Regions from separate parts of the Homo sapiens genome. Here region 2 is linked to region 1. A link means that fine-mapping ties the variant in region 1 to the expression of a gene that starts in the linked region. Tissue or cell type: whole blood. Region 1 holds a variant in brackets; the other region holds the start of a gene. All regions are shown on one strand. Distances are from middle to middle.

Region 1 (6,456 bases):
ACCAGCCACCTCCAAACCAGCCCCACCCAAGAGGCCCAGAGTCCCCCATCCACACGCATGCCTGCGCCAGCTCCCGTCCCTCCTGCTCCAGGCGCTTCAGAGAAGCCCAGACAACCCCTTGGCCCCCTGGCCTGCACACTGGAGCAGGCGAGGCCCACGGGGTCAGCCACCTGACACAAGGGGAAGCCCTGGGGGGCGCCACACTTCGGGCTCTGGAAGCTGAGACCTCAGGCCTGCCAGGGTCAGTCCCAGGCTGTGCTGGTTTCCAGGGCTGGGCAGAGGGACGGCCACGCATGCCCGTCCCTGGGGATCAGCAGATGTGGGGAGCAGGCATCCAACGCCGCCCTAGCCACTGTCTCCTGGGCCTGGCACACCCATGCCCAGTGGGAATCGCTGGACCTGCTTTTCCTGGGCGGGCCTGCCCTGGGCTCCTGCGGGTTGGTGGCGGGGCCACCAGAAGACTGCGCTCAGGGCCCGGGCTCCCAGCACAAGACCCCAGAGCGAGGCAGGCCCCAGAACCAATTTCCTGGGTGGACAGGGGGAAGCCCGTGAACAGTGCACGCTGGCCTCTGGAACCACCGCTGCTGACCAGCCCCGGACCACTGGGGCTGGGGGGGTGAGGCCGCCAACTGCACTGTGTCCACCCAGTCCTCCAGGATCGATGACCAGCGCTGCCCGCCACCTGACGTACTGCCCCGGGGCCCTACCATGCCGGACGAGGACTTCTTCAGCCTCATTCAGAGGGTGCAGGCTAAGCGCATGGACGAGCAGCGGGTGGACCTCGCCGGGGGCCCGGAGCAGGGGGCAGGCGGCCCGCCCGAGCCCCAGCAGCAGTGCCAGCCTGGTGCGAGCTAAGGCCCTGTGCCCACCGCCAGGCCCACCCTGCCCCCACTCCTGGACGCCGGTCTCACAGTCACAGCCACGTCCTCCCGAGGCCATTGCCGAGGACAGGCACTGGGCATGCAGCCCCACGGCCTCCCCGACCCAGGGCGACAGGCTCAGGCCAAGCTGCCCGTGGTGGGAGGGCGTGCTTCCATCCCGGGCTGGCCCCCATGGCCCTCAGCTTCCTCCCTTCTGCCCCTGCCGCAGGCCGGACGGGGCCTTCGGCATGTCGGCCCCGACCTGGTGCTGTCAGACTCCCGCATCCTCTCCCCCAAGCCCTTCCCGTTCTGCCCTGCCCTGCCAAATGTGAAACCCTGCTGTCTCCCCCACCCTCCCCAAAGGTGTCTCTGAGCCGCCTCTTGGGGCCACCAAGGACAGGGCCATGTTCTGTCCCCCCAGAGCTGGTCTTGGGATGGCCGTGTGACAGGCATGCTCCACCCCTCCAGCTTCGTCCTGGGGCAGGGCTCCCTCCAAGCCTGTCTCCCCACTCCCCGGCCAGAGGTCAGCAACCACAGAAGGCCCCCCAGACCACGCATGGCAGACCAGGCTGCAGTGGCAGCCCTGAGGTGCCCCCCGCCGAGTCCCAGGGCCCTGCAGGGGCCTCGACAGGAGCCGGGCCTATCTCTAAAGCAGAGGGAATGGCTGGGCATGAACTTCGACATTCCAAAACCCCAAGCCAGGAAAAAGGGCAGGGCCTGGTCCTAGGGATGCTTACTGGCAGCAAGAGCAGTGCCCAGTCAGGGTGGGAGGTAGCACCAGGCTCTGTGACCCTCACCCAAGTGGGGGGGTGGTCAGTGGAAGCTGGGGAGGCTTCACTCAGCTCAACCCTGCAGACCCCCCATATGAGAACCCCCCTCCTCCCACCAGCTGGGGGAGATGACATCACTGCTCTCTCCATGGGGAGGGGGCTCACAGGGCACCAAGTTCGGGATCCTAGGACTGGCAGGACCTGCTGGAGCCTGAGATGGGCCCCAGGGGCCTGAGGTTGCCTCCTCCTGTCCAGACCCAGCCTTGGCACCTCCCAAGACTGCCAAGGGCCCTACCATGGCCCCACAGCCCCCAGGGCTGGCAGTTCCATCTAGGAGGGTGCCTCTAGGCCCCACTCTCAGGCTAGGATGGAGAGGCAGATCTGGGCCTGGTGAGGTGACCTGCTTCTGGAGGGGCAGGGCCGCACCCGAGAGCAGGGACAGGTGCCCGAACACAGGGTCTCCAGGACGTAGCGCCCCCCCGCATACTTGAATGTATGTGCGTATTTATTGCTCACGTCTGTGCCATGTTGTCAATGGGTCCTTTCCAACCCAAGAGGTACATTTGTTTTTCTGTTTTTCCTGAAAAATAAAGTCGGCCAAGTGAGTGTGGTCCGTATGGGCTTAGTCCCGGGTGGGGGCCTAACCCGGTAAGAGGCTGCACTGTGCAAAGTGTCCACAGATACCCACTGTCTGGGCCCTCTGAGACCTCAGAGAGATGGAGTTCCCACTGCATTTAACCACGGGGGAGCTGGGGCACAGAGGGGTGAAGTGGCTGCCTGCTGTCACCACTGATTCCTGCACCCCTACCTCCTCACGCTCCCAGCCCCTAGGGAAACAGAGCATGCTCTGAGCTGACACTCACGTGGCCGGGACCAGCCCCCAGAAGCAGCAGCCCCCAGGTCAGCCCCACGACCCCCTGAGGACCCAGCCTGCTGCCGCCCACCCAGCACCCGGGGGAGGGAGGTCCTTTCCTGGAGTCTGATCCGGCTGGGCTCAGGGTCTGGACACTGAGCCACAGTGGAGGAGCCGACGGCAGATCTGCAGTCTTGGGGCTTGTCTGGGCGCTGCTTGTGGTGGGTGGCACCCCCACGGGGCCCCCGTCAGGGGACACACAGGTGCGCCGGGCAGTCCTGCTGCCCCTCGCCACAGCCCACCTGGCCATGTTGGCAGCCACAGCCTCTGTGCTGGTTGACTCCGTTGCCTCCTCCACCCCAGAAGGGGCCTTGGGAACCAGAATCAACGTGTACTCCAGGTCCAGGGTCCCAGCCAGCTTGCGTGTGGTGGTACACGCACACAGGGTCCAAGTAACCGTGCAGGGCCCAGGACCGCGCACAGCCAGGGAAGCGCAGCAGTGCCGCCCACGCTACTGGCTGGGACAGCCTCTGAAGGTGCGGCCGAGGAACCTGCTTGGAGAGACGCTGTGACGAGGGATGCCCAGGCCAGCAACCGTGCCCGGGAGGCAGGGATGTCCTGGGGCGGGGGGGTGTAGAGTGGCAGGAGATTAGGATGGCAAAGCCCCTTGCAGAAACCTGGCTGTGGGATTGGGGCTGCGGGGAGGGAAGGGCGGAGGGAGACAGGGTCCAGGGGGCCTCAGGCAGGAGCTGGCGGGATGCTTCTGGCACGCGGGGGGTAGCCATAGGTCTTCTCTAGGAACGTGCCAGCCTTGGGAAGGATTTCCCTCCAGGGCCAGCCTGGGCCCAGAGGTGCTGGCATCAGACAGAAAAGACATGGTAACGTCCACATCCCAACTACCAGCCGCCATCTCCCCATCCGTAAGAGGAGGGGTTGGCCCAAGCGGCTCTCCTTGCTCTAATTCTGCACTTCCAGGTCCAGACGGCTCCCTGGACCTCCCCACATGCTGGTCCAGGCCCTCTGGAGGCAGTGAGGCAGCCAAGCCAAGCCCAGCCCCACTGCACTTCCAAGCCCCCAAGAGACCCCCAGCCAGTGCCTCCATGGAGGAGCAGGCCTGGGTGCCGGTGGCTCAGCCGAGAAGAGGACAGTTTCCACAAATGGCACAGAAGGCTCTGGGTGGGAATAATAGAGGGTTGTTGGCTGAAAGAAGGACAGGGGGTAATCGAGGCAAAGCCCACGCCACAAGCACACTGGGAACGATGCCGCCGCGCCCCGGCCTCCCACGGGCCGGATGTGAGCTGGCAGTCCTGGCCGTGTCCCGCTGGGAGGGGCCGCACTGGGTCCCTGTCGTGCTCAGTCCTGCCTCCACCTCCCACCTCGCCCCATTCTCTTCCCTGCCGGAGTGTGGCGGGTGATGAATGCTGAAGGTTACGCTGCCCAGAACGCTTCTGCAAATAAACAGGCTGCTGTGTTTGCTCGCTTTCATAAACACGGGAACATCCTGCGCACAGACAAGGCTGGGAGACAAACCCCACACACCTCGGAGGGCCCTGGGGACGTCCAGAGCGCTGTCCACCGAGGGAAGGAGGCCCAGGTGGCTCCCCCGGGAGGGGTCTGGAGCTCCTAACACACGGCCACGCCATAGCTGCTCGTCCTGCCTGGGCCAGCAGGCAGCCTGGTTTGCTCACTGTTTCGCCGACGGCCGGCGGCCGAGGACCAG[G/C]GCTCAGGTCTGCACTGGCTCACGGAAGGGAGGCCGCCAGAGCTGGCCAGGGGGGCGGCAAGGGCCTTGCAGAGGAAGGCTGAGGCTCACAGGGGTGGTGACCTGCTCAAAGTCACGCAGCGACAGCCAGGAAGGGCTCTGACGCCACATCCAGCCCCCTTTCCACGCGACTGTGGCCTCTGTGGGCAAGAGCTGGGTGACTCTGTGTAGAAGGAACTGTGGTGAGGCGAGAGGTCCTGCGGCTCCTATGTCCCACCCAGCAGCACCAGGGATTCAGAGCAATCGTTCTAACTCCAGAAAAAGAAAGGCCACGAGGGCCACAGGCCCCAGCATCTGGAAGTAATGTCTGTTTATTGATAGAAAACAGGCCACGTCCAGAGAGGCCCAGGGCCAAAACCTCCTTCTGGAAGGCCGAAGTCCCACAGTGCCGGGGAGCGCAGGAGTCAGCTCGGCTCCGTCTTGCCAGGGCTGGGGGGACCCTCATCCTCACCCGCTTCCGGAGCTGCAGTGGATGTGGGGGCCCCTGCAGCCTCCAGAACCAGTTCCAGGGCCCCCTCGCCCGCCACACGGTGCACCTGCTCGCCTCTGGCCGTCAGGATCTCTTCGATATTTCTGGGGGGCAGGGAGGCAACATGGCTCTTCAGGGCCCCCCAGCCGCCCTGCACTTCAGTCCCCTCAGGGCGCCCCATGGCCAGGCCAGAGCTGCAAGCACCAGGCCCAGCACTCCTGTGGCATCAGGCCACACGGGCACTTCAGACGCTGGCCTGTGTGCCCTCACCAGCCCTGTGTCTCTGCCGGTATGCGCCGCCTCAGGAACCCAGTCTCCTGCTCCTGCCCCCTATGTGCCAGAGGGAAGAATCTGCAGCCCCGGGTCTGATGGGAGGACAGTCCCAGCTCCAAGGGCCAGGTACCACCAAGCACCTGGCATGCTGGTCTCAGACCTGCTGTCGCTGTTACTGTCCTGCCCAGGACCTCCCGGCCAGGCAAGGCCCGGACCAGGCTCCCGGCACCACCTCCACTGCTCTCCCAGCAGCCAGGGCCCAGGCCACACCTCCTGGTCCACACCCCAAGCCTTGCTGTGGGCCAGCCACCCCAAGATGGCAGAGGGCAAAAAAGTTCCACGCTAGAGAGGGACAAGGCTGCCAGTGATGGCAGAGGGCAGGCAGAGGCAGGGAGGCAGGGCCACAGGGCTGGCAAAATTTAACAAATAAAAACGCACCCCCTACTTGGGGCATACTTAAACTCAAAAGCTATCTGGGCTTTATAGGAAATTCTCATTTAACTGTGTGTCTTGTATTGATAAGGTGGCTGGATTTCCCAGGTGAGATCTATAAACCTCAACACTAGGGCAAGGTTCCCCCAGGGAGGCCAGGGTACTTCTGGGTGGCCTTCTGGCCCAGCCCTGGGGTACAGGCCTCACCTCTTCCCATTCAGGTCCGAGAACCAGCCCAGGTTGTCAGCGATGATATGGTGGTTCTGGCAGCCGGGGCAGGTCACAATGACCACGCCTTGGTGATAGGCCAGCTTGGAGATGCGCTTGGAGGACCTAGTCCCGCAGACCTGGCTGGGACAGGGTAGCTGGTGAGGCTGTGAGGGCCGCCACGCCCCTCCCGGGAAGACCCGCCCCTCTAGGGGTAGCTCCAGCCACCTCACCCTCTCCAGAGAAGGCCCCGCCCCCGAGGGATAGCTCCACCCACCCCCAACCTCGCCCTCTCCCGGGAAGGCCCCGCCCCAGGGACGGCTCCACCCCTCCTCATGGTCCGCCTCCGCTCCCTCCCAGAAGCCCCAAGGGGTGGCTCCACTCCTTCCTGTGACTTGACCACGCCGCCTCCCGGATCCCCGGCGGGCCGCTTCTCCCCGCAGGCCGTGTAGCGTCAGATACGGGTCTGTCCCCGGTTCCGTCCCGCCGCGCGCCTACCTTGCAGGTGTAGACGAGCTGGTAGTGCGCCGCCTCCACGCGCCCCAGAGCCGCCGCGGGCCCCGGCCCCTGCTCGGAGCTTGAGCGCCGCCAGCCCCAGGCCCAGGCCCGCCGCCTCCCCGCGACCTCTGGACGGGCCCCGCGGCCCCACAGCCGCCTCAGGCAGGGCGCCCGGGGCTGCACGCGACTCAGCAACCTCGGCGCGCCGCGCAGCGCAGTCCGCAGCATCCCGCTCGCCGGCTCCGTCCGCCCTGCCCCGGCCCCGCCCCGCCGCCATCTTGGAAGTGGGCGCCGGGCGGAAGCGGCGTTCTTGGGCTTCCGTCTTCCGGGTCGGG
Region 2 (6,583 bases), 50 kb after region 1:
CACTGACGCCTGCCTGCTCTGCCACACTCATGCACGATTCCTCCAAAGGAGGCTGCAGAGGCCGGAACAGAAACGTCCCACAGAGCCATCGCCCACAGTGCCGTGGATTTACCTTTGCATAAATTCTGCTGGCCGGATCCTCTTTCGAGAGGCCGAGGTTCTTGGTCTTCAGAAACTCTCTAAAAGAGAATGGATTTGCCTCTTCCAGATCTTCAAATCTGTCATCTGAAATAACAGACATCACAAATGCATAAAGTCTACTGAAGAGCGTTGAAAGGGAACCTTCCTGTTCACCTGTCTTTCCAGAGCATGGCCACATGTGAGATCGGGCAGCCACGCTTGTCATTCTACCATGACTCAGGCAGCACTAGGAAGTGTGAAGGTGGCTGAAGGTGGGCAGTGACACAGACGTGCGTCTGCATTTGCAATCTTCTCCTTCCACCCCTCGGCCCCTGCTCCCACACTGTGCTGCTCACTAAAGCTCCCCTGGGGAGCTTTAAAACGACCCAAGCCACTCCACTGCACACACCCAGCTCCCTGGTGTGAGGTCAACCTGTGCTAGGAGCTCTCAAAGCTCCTCAGGTGGCCAGGTGTGGTGGCTCACGCCTGTACCCCAGCACTGTGGGAGGTCAAGGCGGGCGGATCACGAGGTCAGGAGACTGAGACCATCCTGGCTAACACGGTGAAACCTCATCTCTACTAAAAATACAAAAAATTAGCCAGGCGTGGTGGTGAGCGCCTGTAGTCCCAGCTACTCGGGAGGCTGAGGCAGGAGAATGGCGTGAACCTGGGAGGTGGAGCTTGCAGTGAGCCGAGATCGTGCCACTGTACTCCAGCCTGGGCGACAGAGCGAGACTCTGTCTCAAAAAACAACAACAACAACCAGCTCCTCAGGTGCTGCAACGCTGGGGACCCAGTGCCCCCTGACCCTCTTCCCGACTTTCCTACCTAGGTAGCCTAAATAACGCCCACTTTTCCCTTCTCCCTCTTGCCACCGCCTTCCCACCCTCCGGGGACTTAAGCAGCCACACTCGACCCTCCCAGCTGTGAGCCCCATGTAAAGCTGGCTCCTGTGGCCCCAGCCCCCCAGGTGGGGCTTCCCCGCTCCCTGATGTCACCTCGCTGCTACTCTAGGATCAAGACTGAACCCTTGAAATCCCACCCCCACCTGCTCTTTTGGGCTCCAGCTACACCACATAGCCAGTCACATTGACAGTCCCACCAGACACGTGCCTGGCACTGTGTTGGATGGAGACAAGAAGAAAAGGTTGCTGAACTACTCTACCTCCAAAATGTGTCCCGTGGGCTCCTGACGGGCTCTGCTTAGAACATTTCCCCTTTCCATAGCCAAAATCTGCAAAGAAACAATGTCACCCACCATGCTGGCAGGAAGTCTTTATGACCTCACATTTGGTTTTTTTCTTTTGCACATGGAGTCTCCACTGCAGTGGTTCTCACAGTCTAGAGAACTTTTTTTTTTTTTTTGAGACGGAGTCTTGCTCTGTCGCCCAAGCTGGAGTGCAGTGGTGCGATCTCGGCTCCCTGCAAGCTCCGCCTCCTGGGTTCACGCCATTCTCCTGCCTCATCCTCCCGAGTAGCTGGGACTACAGGCACCTGCCACCACGCCCGGCTAATTTTTTTGTATTTTTTGTAGAGACGGGTTTTCACCCTGTTAGCCAGGATGGTCTCAATCTCCTGACCTCATGATCCGCCTGCCTCGGCCTCCCAAAGTGCTGGGATTACAGGCGTAAGCCACTGCGCCCGGTCAGCCGAGAAAACTTTAAAAAAAACACAAGCTCCCAGACTTGTGACCCTGGAGATGGCCTGACTTGCAGACTGGCCCTGGTGTCCGTGGTCTGAAAGCGGCTCCTCAGCAGATTTTGAAGCCCAGCCGGGGCAAGCGCGTCCTCTTGTCTTGTGACAACCCCCGAATGTCCTCAGATCCTGGCATAACCACACAAACACTCCTGCACACCCCGGGCACCCAGCAGCACTTCTGCTTGGGTAGAACGAGGACGAACCAGATCTGGCCACTGCCCGGCTGTGGAGGCAGATGGAATGCTCCAGCTCGGTTTCCAATCACTGCCCACTAGGTGAAGGCACCCCGACTCCAGCCCCACGAGGAAAGCGGGCGGGCTCCTGTGCTCCCCGGGCACTAACCATCCTGTACTGGAACTGTCTGTCTTGGGGGAGGTCTCCCCGCAACCAGACTGTGAGCTCCTAGCAGGGGACTCCGCCTTTGAATTCCGAGTGCCTGGCACGCAGTGAGCGCTCTGCACATTGATGGGTCAATGGACGAGCTCGTGCTGCAGCGGAGGTGCCACACGTGGCGCGGGAACTGGAAGCGTCCCCGGGGCCGGCGCCCTCGTCTCTCACCTGTGTCTCCCACGGAAGCCAGCACCGGGCTGGGCACATAGCACATAAAGGCCGGCCGAATGCCGAAGAAGGGGGAGTCCAGGTCCCTGCCATGGGGGCGCTCACAATTTAGCTGGGGGAGACAAGACCGGCGCTCATAGAACGCTGGAGCTGGAAGCAACGACAACAGCGACTTTACTGCGTGCCGGGGCGGCCGCCGCCCACCTGGACCGCTGGACTCGGCCCCTGCCCCGCTCACCGTCGGGAATGGCGAGGCTCCGGGCTCGGGACAGCGGGGTGGCGCCCGGGCGGCGCTGGTAGCCCGACATCGCCGCCGGCCCGGCGGGGCACGACCTGCCTAGCCCGGCAGCGGCGGCTCCATGGCCCCGGCTCCGCCCGTGCCGCGGCCCGCGTCGCCCGCCCCCGTCGCCCGCCCCCGTCGCCCGCCGCTCGGCCGCCCCCGCGCCTCCGAGCCTCTCGCCGCTGCTTCCGCTCCGAGCACCGAAAGCGCGTGCCTGAACGCCTTGGGCCGTCGGCGAGGGGGAGGGGAAGCCGTGGGCGGAAGCGGAAGTGACGACTGAAGCGGGGCGGAGACGCAAGATGGCGGCTGTGGTGCTGGCGGCGACGCGGTTGCTGCGGGGCTCGGGTTCTTGGGGCTGTTCGCGGCTGAGGTGAGCCAAAGGCGAACCAGGCTTCGGCCTGGGGCGGGGGCGGCTCGAGTCTTTCTGGACGCTCCGTCTTCGGTTTCTACAGGTGACATGGCGCCCGTGGGACGGGCTCGCACTTCGGGACACTGGTGTCCCCGAGGCGACGGGGGCCCTGCCTTGCTTTGCGCCTCGAGCCCGGGGACGCAGTCCCATCTGTCTCTCCTCTCCCCGGCTGCTGGGTCCTCTCCCCCCCTCACTTCCCGGGTCGACGGGCCTTCTCCGAGGCCATGCCTCATATTTGCCCCCGCGCTTCACCTACCGCGTGCTCCTTCAGGAGGCTGAGCCGGTGGGGGCCCAGCTCTGTTAGACCCGCAGGGTTCTGACACCAGGGTCCAGGCTCTCGGTTGCTGCGGTCTGTCCGTTGATCTCTGACGTTTAAGAACCCTTTCCGTACCCACCGCTCCTCCCACCCAAGTGACCGGGCCTGCCTTTCCCCACGCTGGAACTTTGTTCCGACAGCACAGGCGTCGCCCCTCCCCACACAACGAGCGCCGTTTCAGGGGTGCGGAGGTGCTGCCTCCAGGAGATGGATACAGGCTGGAGCGTAAACAAAATATCGGCAGTCGCGTAAATGCTTTGGAGTAAACAAGCAGCCTTTCATGATAGAAAATAGCAGGAAAGACTAGACTGGTGAGGGATAGTCCTCCATCAGGGTGACATTTAAGGGAAGAGCTGAAGAATGAAAGAAGGGGTAGGCATGGGCAAAGGGCAAGCCCTGGAACGGTGAAGAAGCTTTGGGGTTGATGAGTCAAATGTGTTCCAGGAATTGACAAGAATCAGTGTGACCAGGACCTATGGGAGTGTGGGGGTTCAAGAGATGAGTTTGGAGAGGGAGACAGAGGCCAAGTCACACCCCGCCTTCGGACCAGGTTAATAAGGGATATGGCTTTTATCCAAGACTTCGGTGGTGCTGTTGGAGGGCAGAGCTGTTAAGTGCTTTATGTGTACAAACTGCACTTAGAGTGAGTTACTGTTAATAAGCCCTGTTTTTACAGAGATAGCAACTAAGACCCAAAGGACGGAACCAGCTTGCTCCAGGTCCCGTGGCTGAGCCTTTGTTGTCAGCCTCTGCTTTGTCTTCCAAAGTCTGTAGAAATAAGTCCTGTAGAAAGGCAGATGCTCACTTTTAACCCAGACAAAACATAACTAACCGCACCTAACAGGTCATCACAGGTTTGTTGTCTCAAGCCTGTTGTAACTGGGCCGCTTTCTCTGTTTTAGGTTTGGACCTCCTGCGTACAGACGGTTTAGTAGTGGTGGTGCCTATCCCAACATCCCCCTCTCTTCTCCCTTACCTGGAGTACCCAAGCCTGTTTTTGCTACAGTTGATGGACAGGAAAAGTTTGAAACCAAAGTAACCACATTGGATAATGGGCTTCGCGTGGCATCTCAGAATAAGTTTGGACAGTTTTGTACAGTAGGAAGTAAGTACTGTTGTGTTGTCGTGGGTGGTCCCGCAGTTTTAACATGCACATGCTTTAGTTGACTGTTAGTTGTAATTAGCATGCCAATTATGAATTGTACCCTGAGTGGAAACAAAGTGTACGATTTCATAAATGTTGAGCTACACATATACCTGTGAAACCATCAGCACAATCACCCTCATGTAATTAAATCTGATTATCATGTCATATTGACATCTTAAAATGTTTCTCTTGATTAAATCTTATTTTGAATATCTGATGTAACCTGTCAATTTTCTTTTTACTACTAGTTCTTATCAATTCAGGATCGAGATATGAAGCGAAATACCTTAGTGGAATTGCTCACTTTTTGGAAAAATTGGCATTTTCGGTCAGTACCCAGTTTTGTAATTTTTTAGACTATACTTTTGAAGGATGTTTGAGATTTTTCTTGTCTATAATGGTTATTTTAATAAATTATCAAGTTGCTAAGTTAATGTTAATAAAAGACTTTTAAGTTAAAAGATAATTTTTGTATGTGTGTTAAAAGCAAAAGTAGATTTTAAAAAAAAATTGTGTTTCAGGGATAGCCTGGATTGCTTATTTAGGTTTCCTTATTTATTTTTACTAGTCTACTGCTCGATTTGACAGCAAAGATGAAATTCTGCTTACGTTGGAAAAGCATGGGGGTATCTGTGACTGCCAGACATCAAGGTACACCAGCTTTTGTGTACAAACTGACTTTGGGTCCTTGGGAACTGACGTTCTTGTCGTTGCTCAGATTCCCTCTGAGCCCCTCCCAGCGGGAGGTGTGGAGATTCACGGGGAGAAGGAGCCCTGTCCTGGATGGAGACTTGGGTGGATGGCGCTTACACAGAGAAGCACAGCCCCCAGGAGCTCAGTTGACCCCCGTCAGTTCCTCCAGGCTGTTGGCTGCATGCCAGGGATGTAGAGCAGGCCCTGTTCCCAGATAGAGCAGAGGGCCTTGCATACGTAATGGACCCCGTAGCCAAAGGCGGTAGGAGCCAGGAGGATGAGTGGCTGACTTGGTCTGGAGTTGGGAAAGGAATCATAGGAAATGCAGGGTTGGGCTGGTTCCAGAAGGAGTTTGCTAGACACACGGGGCACAAGGCATTCCAGACCAGGAGACAGCAGGGGCAAAAGGCACCGAGCCAGGGAGGTGCCGGCTGCTTGGTGGAGGGAGGGGGCAGTGTTGCCTCGAGCACAGTGCAGTGGTCTTTGCATGCCAGGTGTGGAGCTTGTTCAGAAAGCACTGGGCAATGTGAGATGGGTGAATATAGATCACAGATTTTTAAAATTGTTGATTTAAGTTTGAATGCTAAAAAAATTACACATAAAAGACACATTAAATGCTAAGAATTAAAGTTAGCTTGGAGGTAACATATTCATGTTCTAAAACAAGGCCTCTTAATACCCCCTGACTCCCAGCTGCCCCTGCCAGGTTCCTGCCTGGTGTGTTTGATTCTCCGACTCTTGCCTCGAATCTCACTCATCCCAGATGAACTCCTTTCTCTGGCCAGGTGGCTGGTGTCCTGACTCAGACCCAGCCCCCCTCGCCCTCAGCTCAGGCTTTTGTTCTTGCCATTCTCCCCATGTGGAGAGCCAAAGTCACTGAGAATGGCTCCTCTTCAGGGTGAAGGTCCAGCCAAGTCCCCTCTTCAGAGGCACTGGTGACTGCGTCCTGCCTCCCAAGCTCCCTCTTCTTCGTGGCTGTTGCGTCTGCTCTGCATGGTCTCCCTTGATCACACTTGATCTCAGAGCACCCCATGATTTCGTGCCTGTCCCATGGGCCAGCTCTGTGCACTTCTGACTGTGCAGTGCCTCATGCCGGGAACAGATGTTACAGTGAGACAAGCTCCATACGAGCCAGCCATTGCTGTCCCCCAAGCCAGCCAAGGCCGGGCATGTTTCCACACTCACCAGTGGGTTCGTTCAGTCAACAGGAGGCTGGGATGAAACACTTCACCTTTTGAGAGAGAGTATAGTTACAAAAATCTGTATCAGAAGTGGCTCCATTTTGACTCAAGCTGTGTGTAGCTGTGAGTCCTGCCTACCAAGCATTCACACTGTAAGACAGGAAAAGAGAAAGGGGAAAAG

Evidence for each region. PIP is the estimated chance that this variant, and not a neighbour inherited with it, causes the effect.
Region 2: it holds the start of ENTR1, and the variant in region 1 is fine-mapped to the expression of ENTR1 in whole blood (TOPMed, PIP above 0.99).

Annotation. Positions count from the first base shown.
Region 1 is chr9:136,357,366-136,363,821 of GRCh38, forward strand. It overlaps GPSM1 (G protein signaling modulator 1), which reads left to right. Exons shown (of 14, transcript NM_001145638.3): 14 at 649-2,236. The coding sequence ends at 855. DNLZ (DNL-type zinc finger) reads right to left here and starts at 6,379. Exons shown (of 3, transcript NM_001080849.3): 1 at 6,122-6,379; 2 at 5,624-5,763; 3 at 2,118-4,815. The coding sequence starts at 6,349. The coding sequence ends at 4,647. LOC124902309 (a long non-coding RNA gene) reads left to right here and starts at 6,004. Exons shown (of 2, transcript XR_007061863.1): 1 at 6,004-6,087. RefSeq lists silencers at 5,735-6,014, 6,115-6,456. The variant G/C (reference allele first, on the strand shown) is at 4,204.
Region 2 is chr9:136,407,714-136,414,296 of GRCh38, forward strand. It overlaps ENTR1 (endosome associated trafficking regulator 1), which reads right to left and starts at 2,901. Exons shown (of 10, transcript NM_001039707.2): 1 at 2,615-2,901; 2 at 2,377-2,526; 3 at 1,286-1,354; 4 at 113-225. The coding sequence starts at 2,684. It overlaps PMPCA (peptidase, mitochondrial processing subunit alpha), which reads left to right and starts at 2,945. Exons shown (of 13, transcript NM_015160.3): 1 at 2,945-3,026; 2 at 4,284-4,486; 3 at 4,777-4,856; 4 at 5,097-5,179. The coding sequence starts at 2,956. RefSeq lists enhancers at 2,004-2,163, 3,014-3,103, 3,134-3,183 and silencers at 2,524-2,573, 2,714-2,803.